2 separate regions of the Homo sapiens genome follow, and region 1 is linked to region 2. Evidence: fine-mapped expression QTL. Tissue or cell type: whole blood. Region 2 holds a variant in brackets; the other region holds the start of a gene. All regions are shown on one strand. Distances are between the middles of the regions.

Region 1 (8,348 bases), 47 kb after region 2:
ATCTAGGTGAAAGTCTCCTCTAAACTAGGAAGTTCATGTGCAGATACTACGTTCAAATAAGAAATTATGCTATATCAGAGTTTCCCAGGATCTCTTTTCAAGGAAAAATTTGTGATTCTTAAAGGTAATTCTCTCATTGTCTATGAGAAGACTGACTCCATGAAGATTTCACGTCAGATGGGAACAAGAGATGGTGAATAGTAAGGGGGTGATAGTTTTGGATTGTATCAATTAGTCCATGATTTCTGTACATAAGATTCACCCTAATATGTTATATACACATCCTATAAGCTTTTAAAAATTTCCTTTTTAGATGAGTTCATGTCCTTTGTAGCGACATGGATGAAGCTGGAAACCATCATTCTGAGCAAACTATCGCAAGGACAGAAAACCAAACTCTGCATATTCTCACTCACAGGTGGGAATTGAACAATGAGAACACTTGGACACAGGACGGGGAACATCACACACTGGGGCCTGTCATGGGGTGGGGATAGGAGAGGTGTAGCATTAGGAGAAATACCTAATGTAAATGACGAGTTAATGGGTGCAGCACACCAACATGGTACATGTATACATATATAACAAACCTGCACGTTGTACACATGTACCCTAGAACATAAGTATAATAAAAAAAATTTCCTTTTTAAAGCAAACACTAATTATAATCCAGTCATGTGTCTATTAACAAGATACTTGGATATAAACAAAGTTTAGATGCAGAAGAAATAAAATATATAAGTAACCATTCAAGCAATTGAACAGTTTTCATGGCACATTTCTTGAAGAATATCATGCACATGAATTGCCTCATAAATCAGCCCAGTCCTGAAGGCAATTGAAAACTTGAACAATATCATTTATTCAAGATAAAGTTCAGGATTTCTGATCAAACATCACATATAAATTTCCAGTTGTAGTGTGAACATTATGCACATTGATCTGAACATTTGGACAAACCAGCTGCATCCCCACACAATGTGCTGATGCAACTTAGATGGATCAGAAAACAATTGTCTGAAATACTTTGTGAATTTATTAAACTAGCCAGAGAGTTTCAGAAAAGCTAAATAGATATAAATATGTTTTGTTTTCTGACTCAGAATCAGATGTCTGACTCAGAAATCAAACAGCATGGGGTGGCAGTGGTCATGGCGGGATGTGCGTGGACGTGTTTGTGTGATAACTGCAGTCATTGACATTTGTTTGCAGTCTATCTGGAACATCTGCTATATAGAACATTTTGAAAATACGTGCTATCTAAATTTCCCTCTTCTCTCAAAGATTGAATTTAAAGGGCATTGTTAGAAAGATCGTAAGTACATGGTCATATAAGCAAAATCCTGATTTGTATGGGTTTTTTGGGCAGCAAAAGATACAAGTAACAAGTAAGGGATTTCATAAATCTGGACAGGTTATGCATAACTCAAGACAGAAAGGAAGTGTCCACTCTACGTTATCCAGGCAGAAAAAAATACACGTATCAACCCAGGGCAGCTTTCATATTCTGCTTTTAAGTGTATTTGAATCTATTGGGCCGTGAAGATAAACTGGGAAGACAACAATAGCAAGTTCATAATATCAAGAACGTGCACTTTGGGGTAAGTTATTAAAGTTGACTCTTCTAAGAAAATACTGCAAGAAAATCACAGTGAGGAAGGGGAACAAATTCTTAGTAGTTTATAAAACTCAGGTATAATATTGATTTAATCAAAAGGCAAAACTGGAGCAAAAGAATAGTCCTGGGCACAGTGTCTAAAGCAGACACACCTTAAACCAACTTTGGAATGCCTTATGATTCATGTCTCAACATGAACAGTTCTAATCACAAGGGAACCTTCTCCAATGCCCTCTGAGCAGTAGTAAAATAACACACAGACTGTGTAATTTAAAGACTGCCTTACTAGCTTAACAGAGTGAATCAGAATATTGAAAACTGGCAAATTCAATAAAGGTTTAAAAATTATGACAATAATATGTTGAATAACCACTGCTATTTTAATGTTTTATTTATTTATTTGTTTGTAATTTTTGTAGAGACAGGGTTTCACCATGTTGTCCAGGCTGGTCTCAAACTCCTGGGCTCAAGCAATCTGCCCACCTCGGCCTCCCAAAATGCTGGGATTACAGGGGTGAGCCACTGTGTCCGGCAAACCATTGCTATTTTAAAACTAGACTATTTCTTAAACTCCTAAATAGCTTTCTCAGATAATAGTAGAAAGGGTACAATAAATCCAAAACAAACACAAGTCTGAAATTTTTCATCTCTAGCCTACCTTAAGCTTATATATTAAATATATAATTATTTATAATTATATAACAATTAACAAATAAACAATGTTTATTTCTCAAACCAAGTAACTTTCTATAAAAAGAATATTTATACTGCTAGAACAAGAAACTGGCTGAACAAAAGCAATTGTCTGATAAATGGCTAAATAAGTAAGGTTTATTTTTACCATATTAGGTTTCTAGAATGAAACAATTTTATAGCTAATCTGACATCTGTAATGTGACAACTGTCTTCTCACATAAATCTCTGGTAACTGTTTATATACTTTTGGGTAATACAGAAAAATGACAAATATTCCAATTTTTAAAATGCAAAATATGTATGTAGATGTATGTAGAGAATGCATTAAAACTTTAAAAGAATTTTCACACATTTGATATTTTGATATACACTGAATTCATAATTATTTTGCCCAACCCCCTAAAATTTCCAAAGAAAATAGACGAGCAAGGCCTTTTCTACCATATGAGAGGAAAAAAACTAGCTAATAAAATCAGAGTATAATATATAACAACTTGCAAGTTCAAATATACCATGCATACTAGATTTTTCTCCTTGTTTACTTTTAGAAATTTTGAGAAGTTTTAATTAATTTTAAAAGAAAAAAACAGCCACAGACAAAACCAGCTTATAATAAAAAGGCAAAAAGGGAAGTTAATGGTTAAACCCATGCATGCACCTAGCCACTCAGCAAACCTCTCTGAAAGCCCCACAATATTGCCTTCTCAAACCATTTCATTGTCATAAACTCAGGAATAATATCCTAGCTGTAATCTAGAAAAATGTCTGTAGTCCTATGCCCCGCCTGAGGGTGGACAAAAACTGGGTCATAAATGAATATTTGCTACTCACTCTTCAGTTTCCTTGTCTTCTGCTGAAGTGCCTGGCAAGTGTTCGATAATTCAGTATTTATAGTTTGAAGGTTCCGTTGTTCCGAAATTGCTTCCTCTAATTTATGCAGTAAAGACGTAGCTTTTTCACTGGCAGTGTGGGCTTCTCGATCTCGATCCTTACCCTGGACATGGATAGTTAGTGCTGGATTGTAGCAGTGTGGCCAGGAAAGAAAGCAATGGAGTGCTCACTCTTATGATGCAGGCAAAACTGAAAATGTGTTTTTCTTCTCAGGGAAGTGATAAGCCTCTCCTGAACTTCTGCAATTCTGTGTTTGCATGGGCTTGGTATGCCTGAGCTATTTCTACAGCGGTTAAAGTCCTGATATGTCAAGTTGCCTCTTTCTGCAGAGTCGCCTCTTTCATCAGCAGGCTGTTGATACCGCCTCTCTTACAACTCCCCCTTTACTTCCTCTGCTCACTGTTAGTCGCTAGGGACTGAACTTGCAGTTCCTCTTTGCTTTTTTTTTTTGTTTGTTGTTGTTGTTCCTCCTCCATTTTTATTTCATGGTTTGCAGGGCATCTGAGGAGATGTCCCCTGAATCTAATGTAGCCATGAGCCACCCTACCTGCTCCTCCACATCCTCCAGCCGTTGGCTGGTTTCTTGGAGCCTCTTCCTAAGGATGCCTTCCTGGTTGACAGCATCTTCCTGTAGTTGTTTAATGGCTTCTAGTTGTTTCTGACTGGAGTTAAAAAAAAAAAAAAAAAAAAAAGTCCAAACCGCAAGCTGTCAGTGACATTTCAACTAAGAGTCACCCTGTGAAATTATGACAAACTCAAACTTAACACCACTTCCTTAGAGATCAGAGGAAAAAGTGAAAGTATTTACATATAAATGCTTCACAAATATAAAATCTTAAGCAAAGCTTATTGGTCGCTTAGCCTGACACCCTCACTTTACAGATAAGGACTTCTAGTTTCATCTTTTACACTGGTGTGTTCAGTTCCCACCAGCTGCATTCATAGCACTTAGCATCAGTTGCCAGTTGCCAGTTACTCAGAAGATGGCTCTACAATGAGGTCAGGGTGACAGGTGCAACATTTACACATCACAGCTAGCTTTTACAGAAAAAGAAAGGAATGGGGTAAAGGTAGGGGGAGGGAAAAGAAAAGGAAAGAGAGCTTTGTTTCATGACCTTAGCCTTTCTCCTTAAGGGTTGTCAATCATAGTATAAACACGTGCCACGAGCACAGGAAGGACCGCCCCCAGGCACAGATGAAAGCTGGCGGTTGATATTTCTACTTTAGTCCTCTTTTTGCTGAAGCTTTTCTCCCCATCACCCTTCCCCACCACAGATCTCATGGTGCCATTACGTTACACCTCATTTGGATCCAATTCTAATCTCTAAAACATGTAAAAATGCACTTACTCTCTGTTAGCAGATGAGATTATTTAATGTGTGTTACATGCCAGTACCTCAATGATTATCTGGAAACAATCTGACTTGAATATGGACCTTAACTCAAAGTGGTGATAAATGTCGGGAGTTGCAAAACAGCAAGGAAGACATTGTCAGCCGTAGGCCTTGTGCATGCCTCTCAAACGTTAACATTTAGTCAGAATGCCACTGCACACTGGCACAAATCCAGCCCTGGTTACACGAAGGACCACATGAGAGGCAAGAATGGTCTCACAGAATGCTTACCATACTGGTAAACAAGCAAACAAAATCCTAAGCAAAAATAAAAACTGCCTACATCACCACACTTTCCACTGAGCGTCCTTCAATAGCTTATCGTTGTCTCTCTCACTCTCTTTTTCTCTCTTTTTCTTTAACTGTGGCAGGAACATTTAACAGGAGATTTACCCACTTAACAAATTTTTAAGTGTACAATACAGTATTATTAACTACAGGCATAATGTTGTACAGCAGATCTCTAGAACATCTTCATCTTGCATAACTGAAACTTTATACCTATTGAGTAGCAACTCCTCATTTCCCCTCCCCTAGCTCCTGGCAACCACTATTCTCTCTCTTTCTATTAGTTTAACTATTTTAGATACCTCAGAGAAGTGGGATCGTGCAGTATTTGTTGTTCTGTGACTCACTTATTTTACTTGGGATAGTGTCCTCCAGGTTTATCTATGTTGTCATATGTGGCAGAATTTCCTTCTTTTTAAAGGTTGGATAATATTCCCTTGTATTTATATACCAAATTTTCTTTATCCAATCATCCGTGGACATTCAGGTTGTTTCCAAATCTTGGCTATTGAGAATAATGCCGCAGTGAATATGGGAATGCAAATAGCTCTTCCAGGTGCTGATTTTAATTATTTTGGATAAATACCCAGAAGTGGGGTTCCTAGATCAGATGGTAGTTTAATTTTTAATATTTTGAGAAAACTCTGTAACTGTTTTTTTTTGTTTGTTTGTTTGTTTGTTTTTTTTGAGACGGAGTCTCGCTCTGTCTCCAGGCTGGAGTGCACTGGCGCGATCTCAGCTCACTGCAACCTTTGGCTCCCGGGTTGAAGCGATTCCCCTGCCTCAGCCTCCCGGGTAGCTGGGACTACAGGCACGCACCACCATGCCCGGCTAATTTTTTGTATTTTAGTAGAGACGGGGTTTCACCATGTTGGCCAGGATGGTCTCGATTTCCTGACCTCGAGATCCGCCTGTCTCGGCCTCCGAAAGTGCTGGGATTACAGGCATGAGCCACCGCACCCGGCCCTCCATAACATTTTCTATAGTGCCTGCACCACTTTCCATTCCCCCAACTGTGCACTAGGACTCCAATATCTCTACATCCTCACCAACACTTTTTTTTATTTGTTTTTTGTTTTTGTTTTTTTGAGACGGAGTCTCACTCTGTCACCCAGGCTGGATGGAGTGCAGTGGCGCAATCTCGGCTCACTGCAAGCTCCACCTCCCAAGCTAACGCCATTCTCCTGCCTCGGCCTCCCGAGTAGCTTTTTTTTTTTTTTTTTTTTTTTTTTGAGACACAGTTTCGCTGTGTTGCCCAGGTTGGAGTGCAGTGGCACAATCTTGGCTCACTGCAAGCTCCGCCTCCCGGGTTCCCACCATTCTCCTGCCTCAGCCTCCCGGGTAGCTAGGACTACAGGCGCCTGCCACTATGCCTGGCTAATTTTTTTGTATTTTTAGTAGAGACAGGGTTTCACCTTGTTAGCCAGGATGGTCTCGATCTCCTGACCTCGTGATCCGCCTCAGCCTCCCAAAGTGCTGGGATTACAGGCGTGAGCCACCGCATCCGGCCGTCTTTTAAAATAATAGCCATCCTAACAGGTATGATACAATATCTAATTATAGTCTTAACTTGCATTTTCCTAATGATTAGTTATGTTGAGTATGTTTGTACACCTGTTTGACCATTTATCGTCTTCTTTTGAGAAATGCCTATTCAAGTCTTTTGTCTATTTTTAAATCTAGTTATTTGTGTTTTTTTATTGTTGTTCTGGAGTTGTAGGGGTTTCTTATATTTTCTAAATATTAACCCCATAAGTGAAGGACCTCTTCAAGGAGAACTACAAACCACTGCTTAAGGAAATCAGAGAGGACACAAACAAATGGAAAAACATTCCATGCTCATGGATAGGAAGAATCAATATCATGAAAATAGCCATACTGCCCAAAGTAATTTATAGATTCAATGCTATTCCCATTAAACTGCCATTGGCATTCTTCACAGAATTAGAATAAACTATTTAAAAATTCATATGGAATCAAAAAAGAACCCAAATAGCCAAGACAATCCTAAGAAAAGAGAACAAAACTGGAGGCATCACGCTACCCGACTTTAAACTATACTACAAGGCTACAGTAGCCAAATAGCATGGTACTGGTACAAAAACAGATACATAGACCAATGGAACAGAATAGAGAACTCAGAAATAGGACTGTACACCAGCAACCATCTGATCTTTGACAAACCTGACAAAAACAAGCAATGGGAATAAATGGTGCTGGGAGAACTGGCTAGCTACATGCAGAAAATTGAAACTGGTCCCCTTCCTCAATCCTTATACAAAAATTAACTCAATATAGATTAAAGACTAAGTGTAAAACCCAAAACTATAAAAACCCTGGAAGAAAATCCAGGCAGTAAAATTGAGGACATAGGCACAGGCAAAGATTTCACAACAAAAGCACCAGAAGCAATTGCAACAAAAGCAAAAATTGACAAGTAGGATCTAATTAAACTAAAGAGTTTCTGCACAGCAAAATAAACTATCATCAGAGTCAACAGACAACCTAGAGAATGGGAGAACATTTTTGCAATCTATCCATTGGACAAAGGTTTAATATCCAGAGTCTGCAAGGAACTTTAACAAATTTACAAGAAAAAAAATATTACAAAGTGGTCAAGCCAGGCTCAGTGGCTCACACCTGTAATCCCAGCACTTTGGGAGGCTGAGGCGGGTGGATTGCTTGAGGTCAGGAGTTTGAGACCAGCCTGGCCAACGTGGTGAAAGCCCATCTCTACTAAAAATACAAAAATTAGCTGGGTGTGGTGGTGTGTGCCTGTAGTCCCAGCTACTCGGGAGGCTGAGGCAGAGGAATCGCTTGAACCTGGGAGGTGGAGGTTGCAGTGAGCCGAGATCGAGACCCCGCCATTGCACTCCAGCCTGAGCAACAGAGAGAGACTGTCTCAAAAAAATAAAAAAATAAAAAGTGGGCAAAGGACAGGAACAGACACTTCTCAAAATAAGACATTCACATGGCCAACAAACATGAAAAAAAGCTCAACATCACTGATCATTAGAGAAATGCAAAATCACAATAAGATACCACCTCATGCCAGCCAGAATGGCAATTATTAAAAATCCCAGAAACAACAGATGCTGGTGAGGTTGCAGAGAAAAAGGTATGCTTTTATACTGTTGGTGGGGTATAAATTAGTTCCTCCATTGTGGAAGGCAGTGTGGTAATTCCTCAAAGATCTAAATAGAGGTAGAAATACCATTTGACCCAGCAATCCCATTACTGAGTATATACCCAAGGAATATAAATCATTCTATTATAAAGATACATGCAAGCGTATGTTCATTGCAGCACTATTCATAATAGCAAAGACATGGAGTCAACCAAAATGCCCATCAGTGATAGACTGGATAACGAAAATGTGATACATGTACACCATGGAATACTACGCAGTCATAAAAAGGAACAAGGTCACGTCCTTTGCAGGGACATGGATGGAGCTGGAA
Region 2 (8,348 bases):
GCATCAAGAATATGAAACTGCGGCCCAAGAAACTTGGTTTCTAATCATGCTTCTACCAATACATGATCATAACTGATCACTTAACTTCTGTGTTTCTCTTCCCTCATCTGAAAAAGAGGGATTTGTATGGAATGATTTTAAAGTCACTTATTCAAAAATTCTGTATATCTATGAAATCCTGATTTTTACACTGTGGCAAAACCTGCCAGTTGACCTTCAGTATCACATTCTTCCTTCTTAGTTAGTAATAAGCCTCCTGATTTTTAGCTAGGCATACAGCCTCCCAAATACACGCTGTATTTTCCAGTCTCATTCGTAACAAAGAATGGAAAGAGAAATGTTACTTTGGACTTCTAGGGGGTGTCTTTACAGGGAGAGGGAATACTTGTCATTGCTTCTTTTTTTTTCTTGGAATGAGATGATGTAATGATGAGGGCTTGGTGCCTGGATCTAAAGTAGCCATCTTAGACTCTGAGGCAGAAGCCAAGGGCTGAGGGTAGTGAGGCAGCACGAAAGGAGGAGGCTGATCCCTCAGGATCTTGTGAAGCTGCTGTGCCATTGTCGGGTTACCCACTTCCAACTTCAGTTTTACACAACAGAGAGAAACCATTGTTGTACTGACTTTCTTCATGCTGCCAGGCACACTTAATTGATACAAAAATATAGCAGAGAGTATAAAAGCATACTTAGATAAACAAATACATCTATATGAATTAAAATCACTATTTTGTTATTTACATATAAAGGCCTGAAACTTCAAATAACATTTTAAAACCGTCTTATAGTATTTGCTAGACATTTGTTAAGTGAATTAGTAATTACCTTGGAGTTTAGAGAAGCTGAACGTTTTTTAATTTGGCAGTCATCTGAAAGGAAAAACACATTGACACATTTTAGCTATTACACATGCCATTTATGTTAAAGCAACGTCTTAATTCTTTAAAGGTAAAGCAAAATTCAGAAGATATTAAGACTTTAGAGACTACCGAGCAATATAAATATCTGTTTATCATTCATTTCATTCTTCATAACAATTACCATCTTAACCAATGGAATACAGTCCTCTGTGTCACTGTGATGTCCATAATGCCTAGCTAGCACAGGGTAGGCACTACATGTGTGTCTGCTGGAGAAAGGAATCCAAAAGTACAGTTCAGAAGAGTATCAAATATGGTTACTGTTCTAGAACAGGGAACAGATTCTTGAAATAAGAATTCTGCTCAGAAAAGTTCATATTGTTTATTTTAAATAAAACTATTGTAAGATTTATAGAAACGATATGTTACTCCCCGTGGCCTCATATGTTTCTCTATTTTCCAGTTCATCAATCAGCTTACTGTGCCAGGGTCATTCCTTCCGTGAGGAATCAAAACCGTTGCTGATGGCAGCGCCCATTTAAATTATTTATCCTTACTTTTTACGTGTGGAGAAATTCTAATGTATCCTAAGTAGGGGAACACTAAGGTCAACTTCATGAGTTGGATTAAATATATTCTGTCATCTCAGTAATCTAAATTGAGTTAATAAATTTTTGGTGTCATTACTAAAGAATCCTTCATGTGTCCCAACCTGTTTTCTGACACCTCACTTTTAGCTATATAAATAACAGGAATGAATTATTTTTCTAATATAAAGTTAACCTAAGAGTTTTATTATACTGAAGTAATAATAAGACTTAGCAAAAAAGAGGAGAATGTAGAAAAACACAACTAATACTATTATCATAAACTTTTATTACCATCATCTTCAAGAGGATTGAAAGACCTTTCATTCTGCAGAAGAACCTGTTTCAGTTCTTCTAATTCAGCGTGCTCTTTGGCATACATCCTCTTCAAGTTTTCTACGTGCTGAATCATCACTTCAACTGCTTTACTAACCCGGCTTTCCTAGCAAGAGAAAAAACGAGCACATTTACATTGAAAATACTACTCTCAATTAAAAGATGGTGATTAAACACATTTACCTTCACTCCATTCCTAAATCCCACTAAAGTGGCAATAAATGTTTTTTTTTTAAAAAGACATGCATCTACAGGGGCAAACAGAAGAGAATATGACAACAAGACTTTGAAAGCTGGATAGAAGGACTAGTGGCAAATGACTAAGACCTGGAAAAGCTGAACCCTAAAAAAGGCAGTAAGAAAAGCCTAGAAGCAACCTACACTGCACCTCAGTAAGGTTGATGGTGGGTATGTGAACAGAAGAAATGGTTGAAAGTCTGTGTAAAAAAAAAAAAAAAGATTAGGTCCAGAGACTCCTTCCTTACTGTGGCCAGCACAGCAATTTTCCCTCCACTATTTTGGTGAAAGACTACATACAGTTGGATATCTAGAGAGAGTTAACTTGAGGTTCTGTGGATTGGGAAAGAACAGATAGTTGATGATGGATCTATCATGCTGAAAACAACAGATTTAAGCAACAACTTATATGCATATTGAATATTGAGATCCAGCCTTATTCCTCCTTCCAGCCTCCAAACACTGGCAGCCAGAGTTACACCCTCAAGGCAGGCAGTTGGAAGGTTTTTCTCTGGGGATTCTAATATTCTAAGATAAAAGTCCTATAACTAATGACATTAGGAGTACCCCAGTGAAACATCTGGAATGTTCATAGTCCTATGAATATTTGTGTACAAGTATCTGAGTGCCTGTTTTCAATTCTTCTGGGTATACATCTAGGAATGAAATTGCTGAGTCATATGGTAATTCTATGTTTAACTTTTAAGGATCCACCAAACTGTTTTCCACGGTGGCTGGACCATTTCACATCTCCCAGCAACGTACAGTGTTTGCAATCTCCCCACATCCTCACCAACACTATTCCTTCTTTGCTTCCTCCCTCCCTCCTTCCTTCCTTTCCAACTTCCTTACTTCCTTTCTTCTTTCACCATAGCCATCCTCGTGGGTGTGAAGTGGTATCTCATTGTGGTTTTGATTTGTATTTCCCTAATACATTTAAGGATGTTAAATATCTTTTTACCTGCTTATTGACCATTTGTGTATCTTCTTTGAAGAAATGTCTATTGAAGTCTTTTGCCCATTTTTTTTTTTTTTTTTTTTTTTTTCAGATGGAGTCTCACTCTTGTTGCCCAGGCTGGAGTGCAATGGCACGATCTCGGCTCATTGCAACCTCTGCCTCCCGGGTTCAAGTGAGTCTCCTGCCTCAGTCTCCCGAGTAGCTGGGATTATAGGCACGTGCCACCACACCTGGCTAATTTTTGTATTTTTAGTAGAGACGGGGTTTTACCACGTTGGCCAGGCTGGTCTCAAACTCCTGACCTCATGATCTGCCCATCTTGGCCTCCCAAGGTGCTAGGATTACAGGCGTGAGTCACCGCGCCCGGCCACACATCCTTTCAAACCACAGTAAGACATTGGGTTTTACCCCAAGTAAACTGAGGAGCTTTAGGACGCTGAACCAAAAAGTAACACAATCTAATTTTAAAAGGATTACTCTGGCTCCTTTATTAAGAACAGACTATGTTGGGAGGAGGGATTGGAATTGGATGGAAGCAGGGAGACCATATAGGAACCTATTGCATTAATCTGGACAAAACAGAATGGAGGCTTAGATCAAGATGGTAACAGTAGAAAGGGAAATAAATGGTTGAATTCTGAATATATTCTGACAATTCAGCCAATAGGATTTTCTGTAGGATTTAATGTGAAGTGAGAGAGAAAGGTGTTGAGAATTACCCCAGCTCCCTCTGC[C/T]CCTATTTTGGCCTGAGCAACTAAAAGGACAGAGCTGCCCTTGAGTGAAGTAAGGAGCTTATGCATGGGGTAGGTTTGGTGGGGGGACCATGAACAGTCAGTTTTGAATGGTAGGTTTGAGTTTATCAAACATCCAAGTGGAACTGTTGAGTCAGCAGTAGCATACTCTGCTCTGGAGCTCAGGGGAGTGGGTTAGGCTAAACATATGAATTTGAGAGTCCTCAGGTGACTGCAAGGGATCACAGGGGGATTGCGTGCACATGGAGATCAGATGTGCACGAGTGGAGTCCTGGGGCTCTTCAATATTCAGAGGTCCAGGAGAAGGGGTAGAACTGCAGGAAGCCTAGAAGGAGCAGCCCGTGATGTAGAGAAAAGCTAGAGGACATGGTGCCTGGAAGCTAAGTGAGGAAAGCATTTCCAGGAAGAGGAAGACATCAGCCATGCCAGATGAGGACTGAGAAACTGAATTTGGTAATGTGGAGGTCACTAGTGACCTTGGAAAAATCTGCTTTGTGGAAGCAAAAGGCTGATACAGAGTGGGTTGGAGAGAACGTGGGAGGAGGGAGACTGAACACAGTGAGTACCATTCTGTCGAGGTTTGCTGTAAATGGGAGCAGAGAAACAGGGTGGTGGCCAGAAAAGAAAGGATAAAAAGTTATTTTGTTTGTGTTTGTTTTGTGTTATTATTCCCATCTAGAAAACAACATATTATTTGTGTGCTGATAGAAATGGTTCAGTAGAGTGGAGAAAATGTAAATGGAGAAAAGTCAGGAGAATTTGGTCCCATGACTCTGAGTAAATTAGTCGGGAAGGCTCCCATCTACAGTGGGGAAGGCTGGCCTTGGATAGGGTTAGAGACAACGCATCTTTAGGAACAAGAGCAAGGGAGTGTGTAAGGATTCACACGCTGGGAGGCTTTGTGGCAGTTTCCTTTGATTGTCCCAGTTTCCTCAGTGAGGTTGGAAGCAGTCATTACCTGTGTTTGAGAGAGAATATGGGGAAAGACATGACAGTGGTTTGAGGAGAAAGGAAAGGGTGGGAAATTGATATTTAAAAGAGAAGGAGGGTGATTGAGGGGAAGCCCCAAGGACCCGCTTGAGGTTTGTGATAATGAATTCAAAGAGAAACAGGTCAGCATGGGAATGTGACATTTTCCAGCTATGCAGGCATGAGAGGTGGAGAAGCGGATTTACTTGTAGATTCGCCAAATGAGTAAGACAAAGCAAGAAAGGGGTAAGTGATGAGGGGACATGCAAGGTAGTGAAAACTATGTTTAACTGTGGAGTATAAGCTTGGCCAGGAAAGCAGGATGGCCAACAGTAGCTTGAGGGACAGTGAAAAGGTGTGATGGGCCAGAGATTGATAAAAGAACTAAATATTTGTCTTCGTAGTGGAAGAGCAACAGATAATACCTAAAACTGAAAATAAATCACTAAATGGCAGCATGAGCATGTTATTGAAAAATGTGAATGCAAATACAAAACAAATAAGACAAAAAGTTGAAAGTTGTTTCTCTGGATCACGGGAAATTAGTAAGGCTTATAGAGCTGATTGACCTTTTAAAAAACTATGTGCATATATAACTTTAGTAAAAATGAAACAAAGAATAACAGTATTCTCTAGTGAGGGGTTAAAAAGGAACTAAGGTGTGAAAGTATATAACAAATGATCAAACTAAAATTACTACCACAATTAAATTTCTCCTTAAGAAAATATATTTTAACAAGTCTGCTTAGGTATAGATTTAAAAAATTCATATCTCCCCAGGTTTGCCCACAAAGAAATTTTGGAATTCTACTTCTCTAAGGACAAATACACACAGATGCATATACAAGGATATTTACTGGAGCATTGTTTATAACAGAAAAATACCAAAAACATCCTGAAATGATTGAATACAAGGAATTGGTTAAATAATTTATATCTACTCAACCAGTAGAATACCATAAAATGGTGACATGTGAGTATATAATTATATCACACAGAAAGTTACCTATGTTGTATGATGAATAAAAAGCAGATTATAACACTATATAAGGGATTATAAACACTATATTATAACACTATACATCTTGAAGAATATATCACAAAAATTTTATGATTGTCACTGGATCGTATTATATTTTTTTAACATTTTTTATTTGTATATTCCATTTTTTCTGTATTAAACACATATGTATTAAACGCATATGTCTTATACAACAAAAGTATTTTTTAAAACTTATTCCTAGAAGTGAGAAATCCATAGTCTCAGGAAAAGTGAATCTTTTTTGTAATTTCATTCTAACTAGAGAAATGAAGACAGGTTACCTGATTGATGGCTCCCAACATCTCAGCCCTACTGGCCACTCGTGCTGCACACTGGCTAAGAAACTTTATACTCTTCTCCAGCTTCTTAATGATTTCCTGTGCCTGGTTGTCATCTTCACACAGAGGTGTTAAAGACTGTATAGAAAACAGCATATTAAAAGATATCTAACACAAGCATTCAGCGAGTGATTCTAACACTGACTAAGTTGCAAATGTGGATGACATTCTAATCTCAATTATTTCGGTGGAAGATGAAAAGAAGCAGCAAAGATCAATAATGAATGATACTGATATATTATTATCTTTTTTGGGTACTGGGTAGATATACGCAGGTGATCACAAATCTTTTATGTCTATTCTTGATCCCTTTTTTCTTTACTTCCCAAATTTGCCACATCTTTCTTCTACAGCTAATAGGATGGGCTGCAATTAATTGGTAATGGTAAAGAGATTATGCTTACAAAAGAGGTGAATGTATCATATAAGGAGCATAGGTTGGAATTTTAAGAAACGTAACCAAACATATTGGAATTAAAAATGTCTCTGACGGTATGACTGGGCTGGCTAGGTGAATATACATTCATTGCCTTATGAATTTTCCTCTCAATCCTGTGCCCTTTACACAATATGATGCCCTTCCTGATGAACATCCTTCTCACCAGAGTACAGACAGGATTAAGTGAATAACAGATTTGGAAGCAGACATGACACTGCTCATTACCTGTGTGATTGTGAGCAAATTTCTAAAACTTTCCCAAATCTAAAGCAACATGAATTATAAGAGATACAACGATTTTGTATATCATTAAGAAAGAAAAGGCTGTCAATAAAACCATTAGGCACCACCGACTGTAAATTGCATCATAATTTTAGAAATGTTCAAAAAAAATCAACCTTTCTGATTTGCTGTTCCTTATCTGTCCAGTGGGGACAATCACGTATCCTCTCCAGAAATACTGTCATATGATAGGTAAGAGATGCCAACTGCCTGTTGCACATTTGGTGCTCAATGAAGGATAACCACTTTTGAAACAGACAGATATGTGTAAGTTGTAGTTAGAGAGTTGCTAACCAACTAGGATGGCAATTGTCAGACATGCAGTTTCTTACAGTGGTTTAAACCACCACCTCCAGTTGGGAAGGAAAGAGCAGATGTTAATTGTTAGCAAAACAGAGTATGGTCAACCAGGATTAAGCCATGAAGAAACAGAGAATCTGAACAGACCTATAACTAGTAAGAAGATTGAATCAGTAATCAAAAATCACCCAATAAAGAAAAATCCATGACTGAATGGCTTCACTGGGGAATTCTACCATTTAAAGAATTAATGCCAATCTTCATAAAACTCTTCCCAAAAATTGAAGAGGAATACTTCCAAGCTCATTCTATGAAGTCCACATTACCTTAATGCCAAAGCCAGAAAAAGACATTAAAGAAAAAAAACTACAGACCAATATCTCTGATAAATATTAATGTAAACATTCTCAACAAAATACTACTAGACTGAATTCAACAGTACATAAAAAGGATTATACATCATGTACAAGTAGGATTTATTTCTATAATGTTAGGGTGGTTTAACATATGAAAACCAATCAATATAATATACCACATTAACAAAAAGGAGGACAAAAACCATATAGTCATTTCAACTGATGCAGAAGAAGCATGTGATAAGATTGAACACACTTTTATGATTAAAAAACACAAAAACTAGGAATACTAACAAAAAGATGCAAAAAACCACACATTATTTTTACTATGTCACTGAAGTGCTAATTTAAAAAAATAGAAATAGGAGAAAATTACCTTAACCTAATAAAAGTTATATATGAAAACCCTACTACGATTATACTCAGTGGTGAAAGACTGAAAGCTTATTCCTTTAAGGTCAGGAACAAGGCAAAGATGCCCACTCTCACCAATATTATTCAACATAATACTGGAAGTTCTAGCCAGAACAATTAGGCAAGGAAAATAATGAAAAGTTATCCAAATCAGAAAGGAAGAAGTCAAATCATTTCTGTTTGTAGATGATATGATCTCATACATAGTAAACACTAAAAATTCCACCAAAAAAACCTGTTAGAACTAATATACACATTCAACAAAATTGTAGGGTACAAAATTAACACAAAAAATTAGTTGTCTTTCTACACACTAACAATTTCCAAAAAAGAAATTAAGAAAACCATTCCCTTTACAATAGCATCAAAATGAATAAAATACTGAGGAATAAACCTAACAAAGGAGATAAAAGAGATGTACACCGAAAACCACAAAACATTTCTGAAAAAAATTAAAGAAGACAAGACACAAATAAATGGA

Evidence for each region. PIP is the estimated chance that this variant, and not a neighbour inherited with it, causes the effect.
Region 1: it holds the start of IRAG2, and the variant in region 2 is fine-mapped to the expression of IRAG2 in whole blood (INTERVAL, PIP above 0.99).

Annotation. Positions count from the first base shown.
Region 1 is chr12:25,047,754-25,056,101 of GRCh38, reverse strand. IRAG2 (inositol 1,4,5-triphosphate receptor associated 2) reads right to left here and starts at 3,396. Exons shown (of 22, transcript NM_001366544.2): 1 at 3,146-3,396. RefSeq lists enhancers at 3,522-3,891, 3,932-4,041.
Region 2 is chr12:25,094,716-25,103,063 of GRCh38, reverse strand. It overlaps IRAG2 (inositol 1,4,5-triphosphate receptor associated 2), which reads right to left. Exons shown (of 22, transcript NM_001366544.2): 15 at 6,020-6,154; 16 at 1,739-1,886; 17 at 823-866. Among named protein-coding and RNA genes, the nearest start is that of IRAG2, 46 kb to the right of the region's middle. The variant C/T (reference allele first, on the strand shown) is at 3,710.